Linked DNA regions of Homo sapiens: region 1 is linked to region 2. Evidence: fine-mapped expression QTL. Tissue or cell type: whole blood. Region 2 holds a variant in brackets; the other region holds the start of a gene. All regions are shown on one strand. Distances are from middle to middle.

Region 1 (8,088 bases), 220 kb before region 2:
GTCCCAGCTACTTGGAAGGCTGAGGCAGGAGAATTGCTTGAACCAGGGAGGCAGAGTTGCAGTGAGCAGAGATCATGCCACAACACCCCAGCCTGGGCGACAGAGTGAGACTCCATCTCAAAAAACAAAAAAACCAAACCAAAACAAAACAAAAAAATTAACAGATTTAAAAAAATAATAATTTTAAGTTTTCCTCCAAGTAATTTTTCATTTTTTAAAAATCTTTTATTTTAAATTCGGGGGTACATGTGCAGGTTTGTTACATAGGTAAACTCACATCACAGGGGTTTGCTGTACAGATTATTTCATCACCCAGGAATTAAACCCAGTACCTCTGTTCCTCTCCCTTCTCCCACCCTCAGTAATTTTTCTTAAACTTTTGGTACCTACTGAAACTTGTCTAGTAATAACATAATAACAGAAATAGCAAAAAATTTTTGTTATAATTTCTGATTTAATTTATTAAATATTAACATTCCACATTGTTCCTCTAATAGCGCCAAACTTCCCAGTATGTTGCCATATGAACAAATAGAGAACTCTTGGAGTATGTACCTGACAATTTTAAATAAGGTGTTTTATTAAAAATATTTCTCAATTCAGAATTTTGAGCTATTAAGATGGACCTTTGTACAATGAATCCTAATTTTACCTTTCAGAAGCAATAATATTTTATTAATTTATCTAGTCAATAGTCATTTATTAAAACTGAAAATTTGTTTAATAAATGTTTTCTCCTTTTAGTGAGTGGCGGCAGTAGAAATGGACTTTGGTTCCACTGCTGTTTCTACCATGGAGTTGTATAACCAGATGAGCCTCAGTTTCCTCATTTGTCAAATGGGACTAATGATAGCTTCTGGACCATAGAAGGAACTCAAGATACGTCACTTTTCCTTTCTTTCTTTTTTTTTCTCTGAGACAAGGTCTCACTCTGTCACCCAGGCTTGAGTGCAGTGGTGAGGTCACGGCTCACTGCAACGTCTGCCTCTTGGGCTCAAGTGATCCTTCCACTTCAGCCTCCTGAGTAGCTAGGACTACAGGCATGCACCACCACACCCAGTTAATTGTGTTTTTTTTGGTAGAGACAGAGTTTCTCTATGTTGCCCAGGCTGGTCTTTTTAATTCCTGGGGTCAAGCAATCTGCCCACCTCAGACTCCCACAGTGCTAGGATTACAGGTGTGAACCACTGCATCCCACCTTCCTTTCCCTTCTTTTTCAGATTCAACAATAAAAATAATTGCTTATCTGTGCATTTTTTATTCTCATGATCCATGTAAAATGATTGTAATTTCTTGTCCTTAACTGTGGTTTGTTTTTGTTTTAAGTACTATTTTAAAAATTAGATGATACCAGAGTTAAAATAAGCCTTAGGGATCCTTTACTTCAACCTTATCATTTTACCAGATTGGAACCATAACCTAGAGAATTTAAAGTAAACTTGTCCAACTTGCGGCCTGCCAGGACGGCTTTGAATGTGGCCCAACACAAATTTGTAAACTTTCTTAAAACATTATGAGTTCCCTGGGCCAGGTGCGGTGGCTCACGCCTATAATCCCAGCACTTTGGGAGGCCAAGGTGGGCGGATCACGAGGTCAGGAGATTGAGACCACCCTGGCTAACATGGTGAAACTCTGTCTCTACTAAAAATACAAAAAATTAGCCAGGCGTGGTGGCGGGTGCCTGTAGTCCCAGCTACTTGGGAGGCTGAGGCAGGAGAATGGCGTGAACCTGGGAGGCGGAGCTTGGAGTGAGCCGAGATGGTGCCACTGCACTCCAGCGTGGGCAACAGAGCGAGACTCTGCCTCAAAAAAAAAAAAAAAAAAAATTATGAGTTGCCCAAGACAATTCTTCTTCCAATGTGGCCCAGGGAAGGCAAAAGATGGGACACCCTAGATTTAAAGTGTCCTGTTCTTGATAGTTGCTAACAGATGTATCCCTTCTAATCCAACTATCTTTCCTTCCTAAATGGTTTCTAAAAAGATTATATTGATCCAACCAACTATAAACATCTGTGCTAGGCTGGCTGGTCAAAAATTTGCCCCAGATTGAAGCAATTTGCAATTATCCTGACCCTCAGATTTGTAGCATACATTAATAGACGTTTGAATTTGCTTCTCTCTACCTCTGGGGCAAAACTTCTATTGTCCAGGTTTATATTTTTGTAACATATGACAACACTTTAAAAGACAACTCTAAATTACTTGATTATTAGAGGGTTTGATAATATTTCAAAGTTTATCTGCCTGGATTTAATTCTTACTAGCTTTATGACATTTAAAAAAAATCCTGACAAATATGAGTGTATTTCCTATATTTGACTGTATTCAACTAAAATAAAGAGATGGGCTCATTCCTCTACTAAATTTCAGATCCCGTCTTGGCCAAATGGATCACAGTGAAATTAGTTCACTGGCTCAAGCTGAAAAAAATAGGCGGCAAGGCTGTGCATTACAAATTAGGCTTTTTAATGAAATCCGCATGGTTGCAGTTATTACCAGAGAGAAACATGCTGAAAGGGAAAATATTCTACAACTGTGCTGTTTAGAAAGCATAAAATCAAAATCTAGGTTAATTTCGCCTTCTCTTTATTTCTTTATTCTATGCAAGAATCTATGCATTTTTCCCCAAGAAATTCAATTTTTTTTTACTATTAAACACAATAATGAACATAGAGCAATATCAATTTGTATCATGAGAATTAAAGCATTGTTTAGCATACTGTAATCTAAGGGGTGTTTTGGATTTTCTGCATTTTCCTTTTTTGATCTATTGTTTATCTTCACTGTTTGGCCTGTCTCATTCCTTACATTTAACAAAACAAAATAACAAAAGAAACTTTCCTTGTCTAACAAAAGGGTCAGAAAAGTATTTATATGGATAGTAGAAACAGAAAGAATCAAAGTGGTAAGAATGCATTCAGAAGGAGAAACATTTTTCACTTTTTTCTGTACTGCAAGCTGGCTTGGTCAAAATAGTCAAAATGTTTGAAAAAACTAAGATATAGACTATAGCTCAGAGTCCATGAAGCAATTATTATAAAATTTTCGTAGACTCCAATTTACCTGTTAGGATTCTGAAATCTGATTGCAAATGCATTGACATAAAAACAGAAGACTATATTGGAGTTTCTAGTTGGTTAAAGAAATACTCCTCACTGTACTACTACATCTGCTTTGAAAAGTTTAAAAATATATTTTCATACTGAATATAAATATTAACTGCTATTTTCTACTGAACAATTCACTTTATAAAATGCTATTTTTAAATTTTAGAGGACAAGAACGCTTAAAAAAAAAAAAGCGTATGTATTCCAAAGGCTATCTTTCCTAAGCATTTTCTTTGAGAACATCAGCCTTGTACAGAATAGAAAAAGTTACTGCTTTAAATTTCCTTCTCCATGATTTAAAGAATTGACATTCTCAACAAGAGGCTCATGAGTGAAGGTTCTTACCAAGCCATATGGAGTTATGAAAAATTCCATCCTTGAATCCCCATCCTTGAGTGTCTTCCCATAGCAAGAGAAATAAGTAAATTAAGATGATCATATCGTCAGTTGTAGTGAAGTAACAGCCTGTTAGGGGCTGCTCACAAATTCTCAGAGCAGTGGCTGAAATGTGACTGAAACATCTGGTTTCCACATCTTTTAAATAGTTTTTTTCAACTGTGAGGTCAGCAAGTACTCTCCAATGGCATTTTCCGCTGTAGAGTTACACAATTATCTCAGTGTCTGAAGCAAATCCTCTGACTCATTTGCATTGGCAACCAAAACTAAGGAGATAGAATGATCATCTATGTTTTAAAATTAACTTACTAAGAACGGAGTTCATTTATTGTTAGTCACAAACACTTTTCTGTTAGAAAGTTTGTGTAACTTGATGCAGATTTAGCAGTGATTAAAAGAAAATCGAACTTCAGTAGGAATTTCAAGATAAATCCTAAATGTCTTATTTGCAGTGTCAATTATGGGATATGGGGTTAAACACTAATCTTTTATTGGTAATGTTGGACTGGCTTTTCTAAACATTGTCAAGCCTGTGTAAAAAATTTAAAACAAAAAGTATGCACAGCTTGGAGAATCCTAATTTTTCTCCAGTGATATATGACTTCCTTATTCTCTGCCTGCTTTTCTTCCAGGGTGGGGTCTGTTGCAGTCTTTGGTGTGTTATGGTCAGCAGCTAAATAAATGTATCAGCTCCCAGAAAAGTATTTCAATTTCAGAGCGTCAGGATGTTCCAGCAGCTTTGGGATGTCCTATTATAACACAGTTTTCCCAGGCCACAAATTCTTGAAGTGTTGGGAGAAAGGTGGGTAGACTAACAAAGTTAATAAAAACTTGTCCCTAGCTTCCCTAGACCACTCTAACTTTGAAGAAGACGATCAAGGTAATAGATAATAATTATTACAGTAAAGTCATCATGTCTTCAAATATCCCAAACTTTCCTCTTCCTTTGTGTAGAATCCTTGGGTAACATATCTGATAATACTCCCACTACCGCTGATGCTAATGGCATTTCCTATTGTTCATTGATAGCCATTTATTGGCAACTTTTGATTTTTTTACAAAATTGGTCATTTTTTGCTACTTAGATTCTCTACTTTTGGTCTCAAATTGCTTCCCATTCACTCCTATTATAGCATTCATTTCTCCCATGCTTTCTTAGTCCCTCCAATGATGTTGGAGTTCTTTGAAAAAGCCAACTTGCTAGACATGCTCTGGTTTGAAGTTAGCTTTGAATCCCTTAGACATCTTTGCTTTGAACATCTCAGGTGTGTTCTGGTCTCATCTCTTCTCAAAAGAGCAGTTATGGGGATGTAGGCTGAGAGTACAGAATTTATTGGATGCTCACTGAGGTATACATAAAGTTACTAGCATTGAAAATCTTTATTTTGGACTGGTGGCACATGAAAGATGAGGGAATTGTATCCAAGTTCACAGATAGGGTTAGTGAATTTAAGTTTGTTGCAAAAGAGAAAGGTATAGTTTAGACCAGGTGGGTGTGACTATGGAGAAGACAGGCATGGTTACTGAGAGCAAGATTCATAGGTAGTTGGAAGGAATAAACCATGATATTTCTTTGGAAAGTATAATTATATGCGTATTTTAAGTTTGTGGTTTAGGAAGTAAATATAACTTTAGTTGTGCAGTGCTACAGCAAAACCTTCCCATAGTCTTTCCAATTCTTTTCTTGTCACATCCTCCAGCTGTGCCCTTTCTGCATCTCTCTCAAGCACCTAATTTCCCCCTAGTTCTCATTTATCAAAAATTACTCTCAGGAAAGGGTTTGCAATTAATCTTTAGTTAGGCCAGATAACTAAGAACAGATACCCTTCTGTGTTCATTTGCATTTTAATGAAGCTCCAAGTAGAGCGAAGTGTGAATGTTCAACTTCTTTTAACACGAAAATTTAATGAGTTGCTTTGATGAATTAACCCGATCTGGGGTGGAGGATTTCTTTCTCCCCTCTCCCAACTCTCATGCAGAATATAAATATTTCCCCTTACCTCTGCATAGTGTCTGAAAATCTCATCCTCCATATCATCAAGGAAATAGAGAATAATGCCTAATGATGTAAGTTCTGATTTTGAGGGGCATTCAATAAAGGAAAGAGGAAATGGGGTTTTCATATGGAAAAGATGCAGAGGGTAATCCTGAGGACGAGAGAGAAGAAAAGAGAGAGTAGCAAAGGAAATGTTGCCTATGAACTTACCTTGGAAGTTGTCTAAGAAGCACCCTCTGCCCAGCCTCCAGCACACACCACCCAGGATAAGCCTCATGAGGAGCTGAGAGAAGATACACTGATAAAAGTTCCTTTCAGGCCGGATGCAGTGGCTCATGCCTGTAATTCCAACACTTTGGGAGGTCGAGGCAGGAGGATCACGAGGTCAGGAGTTTGAGACCAGCCAGACCAATATGGTGAAACCCCGTCTCTACTAAAAATACAAAAATTAACTGGGTGTGGTGGCTTGCTTCTGTAATCCCAGCTACTCAGGAGGCTGAGGCAGGAGAATCGCTTGAACCCGGGAGGCGGAAGTTACAGTGAGCCAAGATCGCGCCACGGCACTCCAGCCTGGGTGCCAGAGCCAGACTCCATCTTAAAAAAAGAAAAAAAAAGTTCCTTTCAAGGTTCTGGAAGACTTAACCAGTCAAGTATTTTGCCTTCTCAGAGGAATGCCCTCCCCTTCCACTATCTCTGGGTCAAGATGTGCAGTGGCTCCTTTCGCACATATCACCACTAGCTGAAAACCCAGCAAGACTGCTTTTTGTAGAGGAGTTCCTGTTTTGGTTGCTTTTCTACAATGTTCCAATGCCCGTAAGCCTAAGCAGCTATTAGATACCTAAAGGCATGGTGGAGAGAACTCCATATCTGAATTGGGATAGGGCTGCACTGAACAAGCTTAAGATCTCTTAAGCTGCCACGATAGTTAATGATGTCACTATTGCACAAAGTTAACTGAAAAAATGAGACACTAGCCAGTGTGGTGGTGTGTGCTTGCAGTCCCAGCTATTCAGGAGGCTGAGGCAGGAGGATCACTTGAGCCTAGGAGTTGGAGGCTTCAGTGAACTATGATCATATCACTACACTATAGCCTGGGCAACAGAGCGATATGCTGTCTCGAAAGAAAAAAAACAGCAAGAGAGACGCTAAAGTAGAATTTTAAACATCTATTAGCAGTTAAGAGGAAATATTTTATATCCTTTTGACATGCTGAGTCTCAGCTGACAGGAAAAAGGGATGGAGAAGTGTCAGGTGAATATAGACAGGAGAAAAAGAAAGAGAGAAGGAAAACAGGTTCTAAGACAACATGTCTGATTATACTTAAGACTGGATTTGAATGGCAAGATGTGCAAAAATGCAATTCTTTGATACACTGTATGAAAATTAAAATATAAATTATATCCTTTATTAAGCATATGTTGCAATCTTGGAAAGAGCAGGAAAAAAACCAAGATGAGATTAGCAAAGGGTGGAGCTCCGTGAATCACAAAATATGTCAATACAGGACATTTTTAACACTGCCAATAAGGACATAAAATTGCAATACAGGAATGCCCCACCCATCCCAGAATCTCCACATGGACTAGGATAGGAATAAAAGCAATAAATGAAGAAAAACCCATTCCCCTTGAGTGTGACTTAAAATGATTGGAGAGAAATTCTTATGTGTGACATAGAACATACTTAAAGAAATGAAACATGTGGCATTGTACTCGTTCATTCAATAATCAGTGCAAACTTTTACAGGGTCAGTGAGCAGGATAGAGCCTAACTAGAACAATGGGAAATCTTTGGAAAAGTGAAATATTTATTTATTTATTTTTTTGAGACAGAGTTTCGCTCTTGTTGCCCAGGCTGGAGTGCAATCACAATCTCGGCTCACTGCAACCTCCACCTCCCAGGTTCAAGCAGTTCTGCCTCAGCCTCCCGAGTAGCTGGGATTACAGGCATGCGCCACCATGCCCGGCTAATTTTGTATTTTTAGTAAAGATGGGGTTTCTCCATGTTGGCCAGGCTGGTCTCGAACTCCTGACTTCCAGTGATCTGCCCACCTCGGCCTCCCAAAGTGCTGGGATTATAGGCATCAGACACCATGCCCAGCCTATTTAATTATTGTATATCAAAAAGCTTTGAGACAGTGAATATGAGCCTATGTACAACACCGAATGGAATAATGCACTTTCAAGTTTATGGGTAAACAGATGTCAGAAAGAGATCCAAAATTGATGTCGGACTTCCAGTTGTTAATGCAGTGTGACAGTTGTTAGTAATCTTCACCAAATATTTCCAGCTTGTCAACTTCCAGCAAACATGATAGCATTGTATGTGTGTCCCTCTGTGGTTTGGTGGAACCATGTGATTATTTTTGGCTAATGAGATGTGAGCAAAAATTATGTATGTCATCTTAGAGTGAGAATTTGATTGCTAATGCTCCAGAACTCTTTCCTTCTGGCATGGCGGGAAACATTTGTGATGACAGCTGCTCTTTCACCCTGATTCCAATTGATCCCTGGATTTTATATAACATGAATGAACTATAAACTTTTGTTATTTTACGTTATTGAGATTTTGGGGTCATTTATTACTGCT
Region 2 (8,109 bases):
TTTACATTAGGGTTCGCTCTTTGGATTGTACATCCTCTGGGTTTTGACAAATTGTGTGATGACATGTACTTGCCATTACAGTATCATGCAGAATAGTTTCACTGCCTTCAAAATCCTCTGTGCTCTGCCTATTCATCCCTCTCCCGACCCCAGCCCCTGGAAACCACTAATCTTTTTGCTATCTCCATAGTTTTGTCTCTTACAGGATGTCATATGGTTGGAATCATACAGTATGTAGTCTTTTCAGATTGCTTTCTTTCATTTAGCAATATGCGTTTGAGATTCCTTCATGCCTTTTTATGGCTTGATAGCTCATTTCTTTTTATTGCTGAATAATATTCCATTTCTTGAATCTACCACAGTGTATTTATCCATTCACTAACTGAAAAACATCTTGATTGCTTCCAACTTTTGGCGATTAAGAATAATGCTGCAGGTTTTTGTGTTTTTCATTCATTTGGTTAAATTCCAAGGAGTGCAATTGCTTGATTGTAGGGGATGAATATGTTTAGCTTTGTAAGAAACTGCCAAACTGTTACCCAATGTGGCTATAACATTTTGCATTTTCCACTAGCAATGAATGAGAGACTCTGCCTTTCTGCATCCTGACCAGCATTTGGTGTGTCAGTGCTTTAGATTTTAATTATTCTAATAGGTGTGTAGTGGTATCTCATTGTTTGAATTTGCAATTCCCTAATGATATATGATGGTGAGCACTTTTTTTTGATGTACTTATTTCCCATCCATATATCTCCTTTGGTGAGACTTTAAAGAGTTTTTAAGTGAATTACATAAAACAATACAAATCAATTACTGAGTATAGCACCCAACATACAGTAAATTCTCCATAAATATTACCTTTTCTCATTATTAGAATGCTGAAATCATCCTGGGAAATCCACCTGAAGAAGCTGGCAGGACACCTCATCTGCATTCTTAGGAAATGATATCAGTCTTTTTCTAAAAAATCTCTAATTGAGGAAAAACCAACACACTCTGGTATCTCTCAGCCTTCTCTGGGGGAAGTTCCTCCCATGCTAGAAAAGAGTAGACAAGGGGGCAAATTAGACAAGGGCATTTTAAAAACTGGCGGATTACTTGAACTGTTTGGGAACCTTCATAAGATAAATTTGAGTCCCATACTGATTTTGATGTACATGATAGGGCTAAAGAGTAAAGATTTTTATTTTATTTTATTTATTATTATTGTCTTTTTTGAGATGAAGTCTCGCTCTGTCGCCCAGGCTGGAGTGCAGTGGCGCGATCTCAGCTCACTGCAAGCTTAGCCTCCCGGGTTCACGTGGTTCTGCTGCCTCAGCCTCCCGAGTAGCTGGGACTACAGGCGCCCACCACCACACCTGGCTAATTTTTTGTATTTTTAGTAGAGACGGGGTTTCACCGTGTTAACCAGGATGGTCTCGATCTCCTGACCTCATGATCCACCTGTCTTGGCCTCTCAAAGTGCTGGGATTACAGGCATGAGCCACCAGGCCTGGCCTTTATTTTTTAAAGACAGGGTCTTGCTCTGTTGCCCAGGCTGGAGTGCAGTGGTGCAATCACAGCTCACTGCAGCTTTGACCCCTTAGGCTAAAGCAGTCCTCCCACAATAGCCTCCCAAGTAGCTGGGACCACAGACGTGTGCCACCGCACTCGACTAATTAAAAAAATTTTTTTTTTGTAGAGATGAGGCCTCCTTATGTTGCCCAGGCTTCTCTTGAACTACTGGGCTTAAGTAATCCTCTCGTCTCGGCCTTCCACAGTATTGGGAATACAGGTGTGAGCCACTGAATTTGGCCATGAGTATATACTTTTAAAATGCACCAGGTGTCTGAACAATCTGACTACATGATATGTCCATGACCATACAATTTATCATTTAAGCTAATCACTTTTGCGAGTGAAAGGTACTATTAACAATTTACTCAGGACAATAGATGAACACAAGGATAAGCTGGGCAGATGTCCTGGGGAAACTGGGATATGTGTTCTCCCTGTGTGTAAGTCTTTTCTTGACTTTAAGGTTCTAAGAGTATAGTAATAAATCCAACAGAAATGCTTCCTAATGTGCTTTATGAGTATCTTGATATTCACTCTAATTTTCTAGAAAGAAAAAAGTTGGGCTTATATTAATATTGATAGATAATATTGAAAAGGAAAAAGTAGGAAAAATTAAAAAGGACCCAACAAGGTAGACCTTATTAGAATTTCAACCAAAGAAATTCAGATTTTCTATTTATGTTGAAAGTGGCAAAACCCATAATACTCAACTGAAATTAATTTTATATTAAAAAGAAGAGCCATTTTTACTTGTTTGGGGTTTTCAAAGGTGGTAGTATCTGGAGTGATATTTTAATGAAAATATAGCCTAATGTAAATCTTCTTTGCTTGACTTGAACAGACTTGAAAGAAAGCCAAGTGTCAGACAGAGGAGGATGTCAGTTTCTGTGGCACCCATGGCAATTCAGATGCAGGGTGCAATGTTAAAGTCTACACCTCTACATAATTCTTGGAGGCTTGCAAAAGAACAAACGAGCCAATACTTGTTGAATACATACAGTTATTTCAAGCACTGAGCTGTTTTATAGTCCTCCATCAAATAAAATAGACATTCTGATCCATTTTATGGATAAGTAACCAAAGACTTGGAGGCGTTAAGTAGCCTGCCTAAGGTTACACAAGTGGTAAGTGACAGAGACTAGATTTGAAACCCCGTGTGTCAAGGGTCTTTCCTCTATATCAGCCTTGCTGCTTCAATTGTAGAAAAGTATCCATTTTGTTGTAGTGGAGGTCTCAGCTGAGCTGAGGTCACAATTCAGAATTTACATGGGCCTAGTGAGTTTATTGGTGGAAACCTGAAGACAAATATTTTGAGTTTTTGTACTGGGGGCCAGGAATTTTCATAAAGTAGACTTGTGTGAATATAAGGACAGAAACAAATGGTGTTGAAGGCATTATGACATTAATTTCTCTACCTGGTCTACCCTCTATGGAGAGATAATCTAAAGGCAGAAATACATAAGCTGTTTCTATGAGGAACTTTATTTATTTGATAGCATCTTATTCTGGTCACCCAGGCTGGCGTTCAGTGGTGATCATTGTTCACTGTCACCTCAAACTCCTGGGCTAAAGTGATCCTCACTCCCCAGCCTCCAGAGTAGCTAGGACTATAGGCACACACCATCACACCCAGCTAATTTATAAATATTTTTGTAGAGACAAGGTCTCACCACGTTGCCCAGGCTTGTCTCAAACTCCTGGGCTCAAGTGATCCTCCCGTCTCAGCCTCCCAAAGACCTGGGATTATAGATGGGAGCTATCCTGCTTGGCCTCATGGGAAACTTTTTTATTGTCATATGAACGTAGTGTGACAAGGTCAAAGGCCAGAGGAGTAAACAGGGACTAATTTGTGAAGGGCTTTGG[T/G]GCCAAGAGAGAGGGTTAGTACTCCATCCTCAGAGCAATAGGAGTTGGTTAAAAGAATTGAAGCAGGGGAATAAAATAGCCATCTTAGTGCTTTTTGAAGATCACTGTGTTTGCAGTGTGGAGAATGGCAAAGATGAGTAAGAATGGCGAAAGGGTGCTGTCACAGTTGTGTGTGGGAATAATGAGTGTAGTCTGAACTATAGGTGGCAGTGGAGATAGGGAAGAGTGAATAAATTTAAAAGATATCAAGTAGGTAAAATGTGTAAACTTAGGGATTGATTGGTTGTGGGGGTAATAAAGAGGGAGGAATCAAGGATGACTCTCAGATCTTTAGCTTGGAATACCAGATAGTTGGACTGCATTTATTGAATGGTGGCAGGTTGATAAGTTCAGTTTCAGACCAAACATATTAAGTTTGAGGTACTCTGAATGGTTCACATGAAGGTGACCCGGAAGCAGTTGAATAAAAATGTCTGGAGCTTGGGAGAGAAATCTGGGCTGGAGATATTGATATGGGAGATAATAACATATGGATTGTAAATTAAGTCATGGAAGTAGCTGATATCACCTTGTAAGAATATACAGAATGAGAAGAGCAGAGAGTCTAGGACTAAGCCTGAGGGAGACAGGGTGGAAGAAGGCAGCTTTTGTAGATGATTAGGAGGGAGGGGCTATGGGAATAGGAGGGAAGCCAAAAAAGAGTGGTGTCATGGGGGTCAGGGAGAGTTTTAAGGCAGGTGTGACCACCTGGGTTTGGGACTGACAGGAGATCAAGCAAGATAAAGACTGAAAACTGCTTATTAAATGTAATACAATTTTTATTATTTATAGGGACATATATTAACAAAGTTTGAATACCACAGTTTCCAATTTGGAATGCTACTTTGGCAGTGTTTACCACTTTTAAATCTATTCACGAACTGGAAATTCTGGGTTGTGGAGAGAGAAAGTATAATAAGGAACCATTTCCAAATAGCATCTTAGGGGAAGGAGGTTAGTCCTGAAATTAGGTAATGCATGAGTAATTGATTAATGGTATGTATTACATAGAGCTTGTTAATTGTTGAGCGGTACTTATACTCACTGCAATCAGTTTTTCATTATGTTCATATGTATCACTCATATGGAAACGCAACACTTCAAGATGTGTTGTTAGCTCAATTTTCAGGGCATGTGTTCAGTTGAGAAACTGTCTGCTGTGGCAGCAGCCCCCATAAGGACCATGACGACAGTTTCACTGCAAAATAGCACCCCTTTGACCCGGACATGTTTCAGGAAATGGCTGGTCACAGAAAACGCTCTGCCCCTAACACTGAACGATCTTTCCTCCTTTGAAATGTTCCTAAATTACTCACTTGTTCCCTTGCCTATCAAAATCTGCCAAATGTACCTGAAGGCCAATTAGGGTCTACTCCACTTCCCAAAGTCCCACCTTCACACAACGCTTGCCCACCAAATGCTGTCTCCTTGGCATTTCCTCTTTCTACTCTAAAACGTACTCTCCTCTCAGACACTCTGAACCCCTGCTGAAAGGAAAGTGGCTGCAGAATAATTCCCTTGCTACAGTTTATGAATAGATAGCTTTTTATTTTTTATTTTTTTATTTTTTATGTTTTTGAGACAGAATCTCGCTCTGTCACCCAGGCTGGAGTGCAGTGGCGCAATCTCGACTCACTGCAAGCTCCGCCTCCTGGGTCCACGCCATTCTCCCGCCTCAGCCTCCCGAGTAGCTGGGACTACAGGCGCCCGCCACCACACCCGGCTAATTTTTTGTATTTTTAGTACAGACGGTTTCACCATTCACAGGATGGTCTCGATCTCCTGACCTTGTGATCCGCCTGCCTCGGTCTACCAAAGTGCTGGGATTACAGGCGTGAGCCACCGTGCCTGGCCGATAGCTTTTTAAATCTTGTCTTTAGGTTTTGTTGGATGTAGGTTGAAAAAAATGAACTTGATTCTTCTCCAAATCAACCTAAGTGCTATTTCATGCCCCCTTTTCAACTGATAGTATACAATGGCCCATTTTGGTCAACAAAGTAATTTAAGGTTCAAACTCAATCAATTCAGGATTTTTCTCTCTGTTCCCCTCACACCCTGGCTCTGGTGATATAAATGCATTCTGAGGTATTTGTACAGAGTCTTGGCACTGCAGGAGTGAGTGAGGCAGGCCTTGGGAGCATTTTGTTCCAATGCAGGGCTGGGACAGGCCCCTGGGGCTGGAATTCAGGGAGGCAGGTGCAGGGCAGGGAAGTGAGGGCCGTGAGCCTGCGGGGCTGTTGGGGAGCTAACATTTTCTCTTTCTGGATCTATCAGCTAAACAGGTGTGTCTAGCTTGCAAAAATTCATCAAACTGTACCCTGGATGCATTTTTTCTGACTATATATTTCATTAAAAATAAAAAAATATATATACCATTCTTAGGGACAGAGAATTTCTGCTATAAGATCTCTGTTTTCTCTCTGTCTCTGTGTCTCTATCAGTAGAATTTGTTGTTCTCTAATAGGTAAACAAATGCTAAACCTCAAGTTATTTTTATTTTTATATTTTATAAGGTATTTATGTATAAATATATTTAAATTTATAGATATAGTTCAACCTAGTTGTCCAAAAATGGCTGACTGCACTTTGAACTAACTGAAACTTCTTTGGGTAAACTTCAGTTGTACAGAGTTGTTTCATGTAACTATGTTCTAGACCCAGCCTTAAACTCTAGCCTTGGCCGCAGCTACGCCTGTTGTAGATGAATATTAAAGATCTTGATGGGCTTTGTGGAAGTCTGTCGTAACAGTGGTTTGGGCCAAAATCTCTGCTTTGGGCAGTAGAGAATTTGGCTTGGGCTCCTGGTGTGATTGTGCTCAGATGGTTGCTTGGGGGCCCTATGAACAGCAAATCCCTGGTGCCTTCAGGCCTTTGCACAGTCCTTTTACTATCTTTAGGAACTGATTTGAGGTATTTTTTTAAAAAAAGTCCCAAACGGCAATGACTTTTGCACCAACCTATAGCAGGAACCTTATAAAAAGACCATCAAATACTTCATTTTTCTCAGAAAAATGAATGGAGGCAGAAATTAATTGGATGGAGAGAATTGACTAGGCCTGAAAACACTTAAGATAATTTTACATAGAGTTGGTCTACTTTTCTAATTTTCATAAACCAAATTAAAGTGGATTTCATGACACCTGTGGTTTTGAAAACTTATTTCTTAGGATAAGTATGTATTAAATAGAATTAATACTATTGGCCTGTTTAGACAAAAAAAATCAATTAAGTGAGAACAAAAATTAGAGTCTATAGACAAAACAACCGGCTGACTGACTTACTCTTCACTTAGCTTTTGGTCATTTTATAATGATTGAGCCTTAAAATCACATTGCTTAATATGCAGTCCTCAAAATGTTCTTAATTAAGCACAGATGCACATTTTGCATTTCCAGCTATGCTTCTGCCTTCAAGTCCATTGCTTATGCCAAACAAAGCAGAACATTCCTAGAAATACGAACCTTATATGGAATAGTTTATGTTCTTTACATTTTTCCTACCTCTGTGATTCATACATCTTAATTATGACAGAAAAATATATTTGGAGAAGGTCCTGTGTGCCCCATGGTATTACAATTACTTAGTACTGCTAATTATTAATGACCTGTATTATAAATGTTTTTCAAAATGGTTTCTTCTTTCTTAACTCTTTGCTATAACAGTCCCCCAAATTGTGCCTCTCCTGGGAGGTGGGGTATGTCTGGGATATGTGATAGATTGGAACCGCATGGGCTCTAAGACAACATTTCTGGCTGGCTGGCACAAATTCGCCCCAAAATATAGTAGTAATGTCTCTGGGTTCCTATAAAAGGGGGTAAAGTTATACCAACCTGTTTTATGAGACTGTTGGGAGAGATAAATTGTTAAGAGAAAGTATAATGACAACAATATGTATGAATCAATCCCCTGAAACATAGGAGTTTAAATGCATTCTACAGATCAGGTAAATAACTGGTTACCCAGCTATGTAACCAAAGAAAGCAAATGTCCACTTGAATTAAGGATAATGAGAATAACATATGCATTAGAGAAACATACCAATCAGGTAGGTGGAATTCGCTTTCCTGTATTTGAAAAGGTTAGCAGGAAATGTTAACTATGTAATTGAATATATTGTAGCAGAAATGAGGGATGTAATGTTATTATAATTGATCACAAAATATCTATAGGCAGAAATAAATAAGGCTGCTCACCAGTGGCTTTTCAATCTGCCTCGGAAAGCTTTATGATAATTTGCTAGGAGAAAAACCTCTGGTCACTATTGATTAATAATGCATTTACAATATTTTTCTGAAATATTTTCCTGCTTTATGTCTGTTAAAGTAAATGCAGCTGATGACAATACATCTGAGAGAAAACTTGCAGGAGGCCAATCTCAAAGGAGCATTAACAACAATTCCATCCAGGTCTGGAGCCTCCAGACATTGGAACTGTGTCCTAGTTACACGAAAAGCTCTGCAAGTGTGGAATTCCAAAATTGTATAAATGTTTTCTTCCCAAAACATCTTTTTTTTTTTTTTTTTTTTTTTTTGATACGGAGTCTCGCTCTGTTGCCCAGGCTGGAATGCAGTGGCATGATCTCGGCTTACTGCAACCTCTGCCTCCTGGGTTCAAGGGATTTCTGGGTAGTTTTTGTATTTTTAGTGTTTT

What was found. PIP is the estimated chance that this variant, and not a neighbour inherited with it, causes the effect.
Region 1: it holds the start of TNFAIP6, and the variant in region 2 is fine-mapped to the expression of TNFAIP6 in whole blood (TOPMed, PIP above 0.99).

What each region holds. Positions count from the first base shown.
Region 1 is chr2:151,353,125-151,361,212 of GRCh38, reverse strand. TNFAIP6 (TNF alpha induced protein 6) reads right to left here and starts at 3,621. Exons shown (of 6, transcript NM_007115.4): 1 at 3,453-3,621. The coding sequence starts at 3,546. The region is part of intron 2 of LOC101929319 (a long non-coding RNA gene); the gene reads left to right.
Region 2 is chr2:151,137,466-151,145,574 of GRCh38, reverse strand. No RefSeq gene overlaps it. Among named protein-coding and RNA genes, the nearest start is that of RBM43, 120 kb to the left of the region's middle. The variant T/G (reference allele first, on the strand shown) is at 3,421.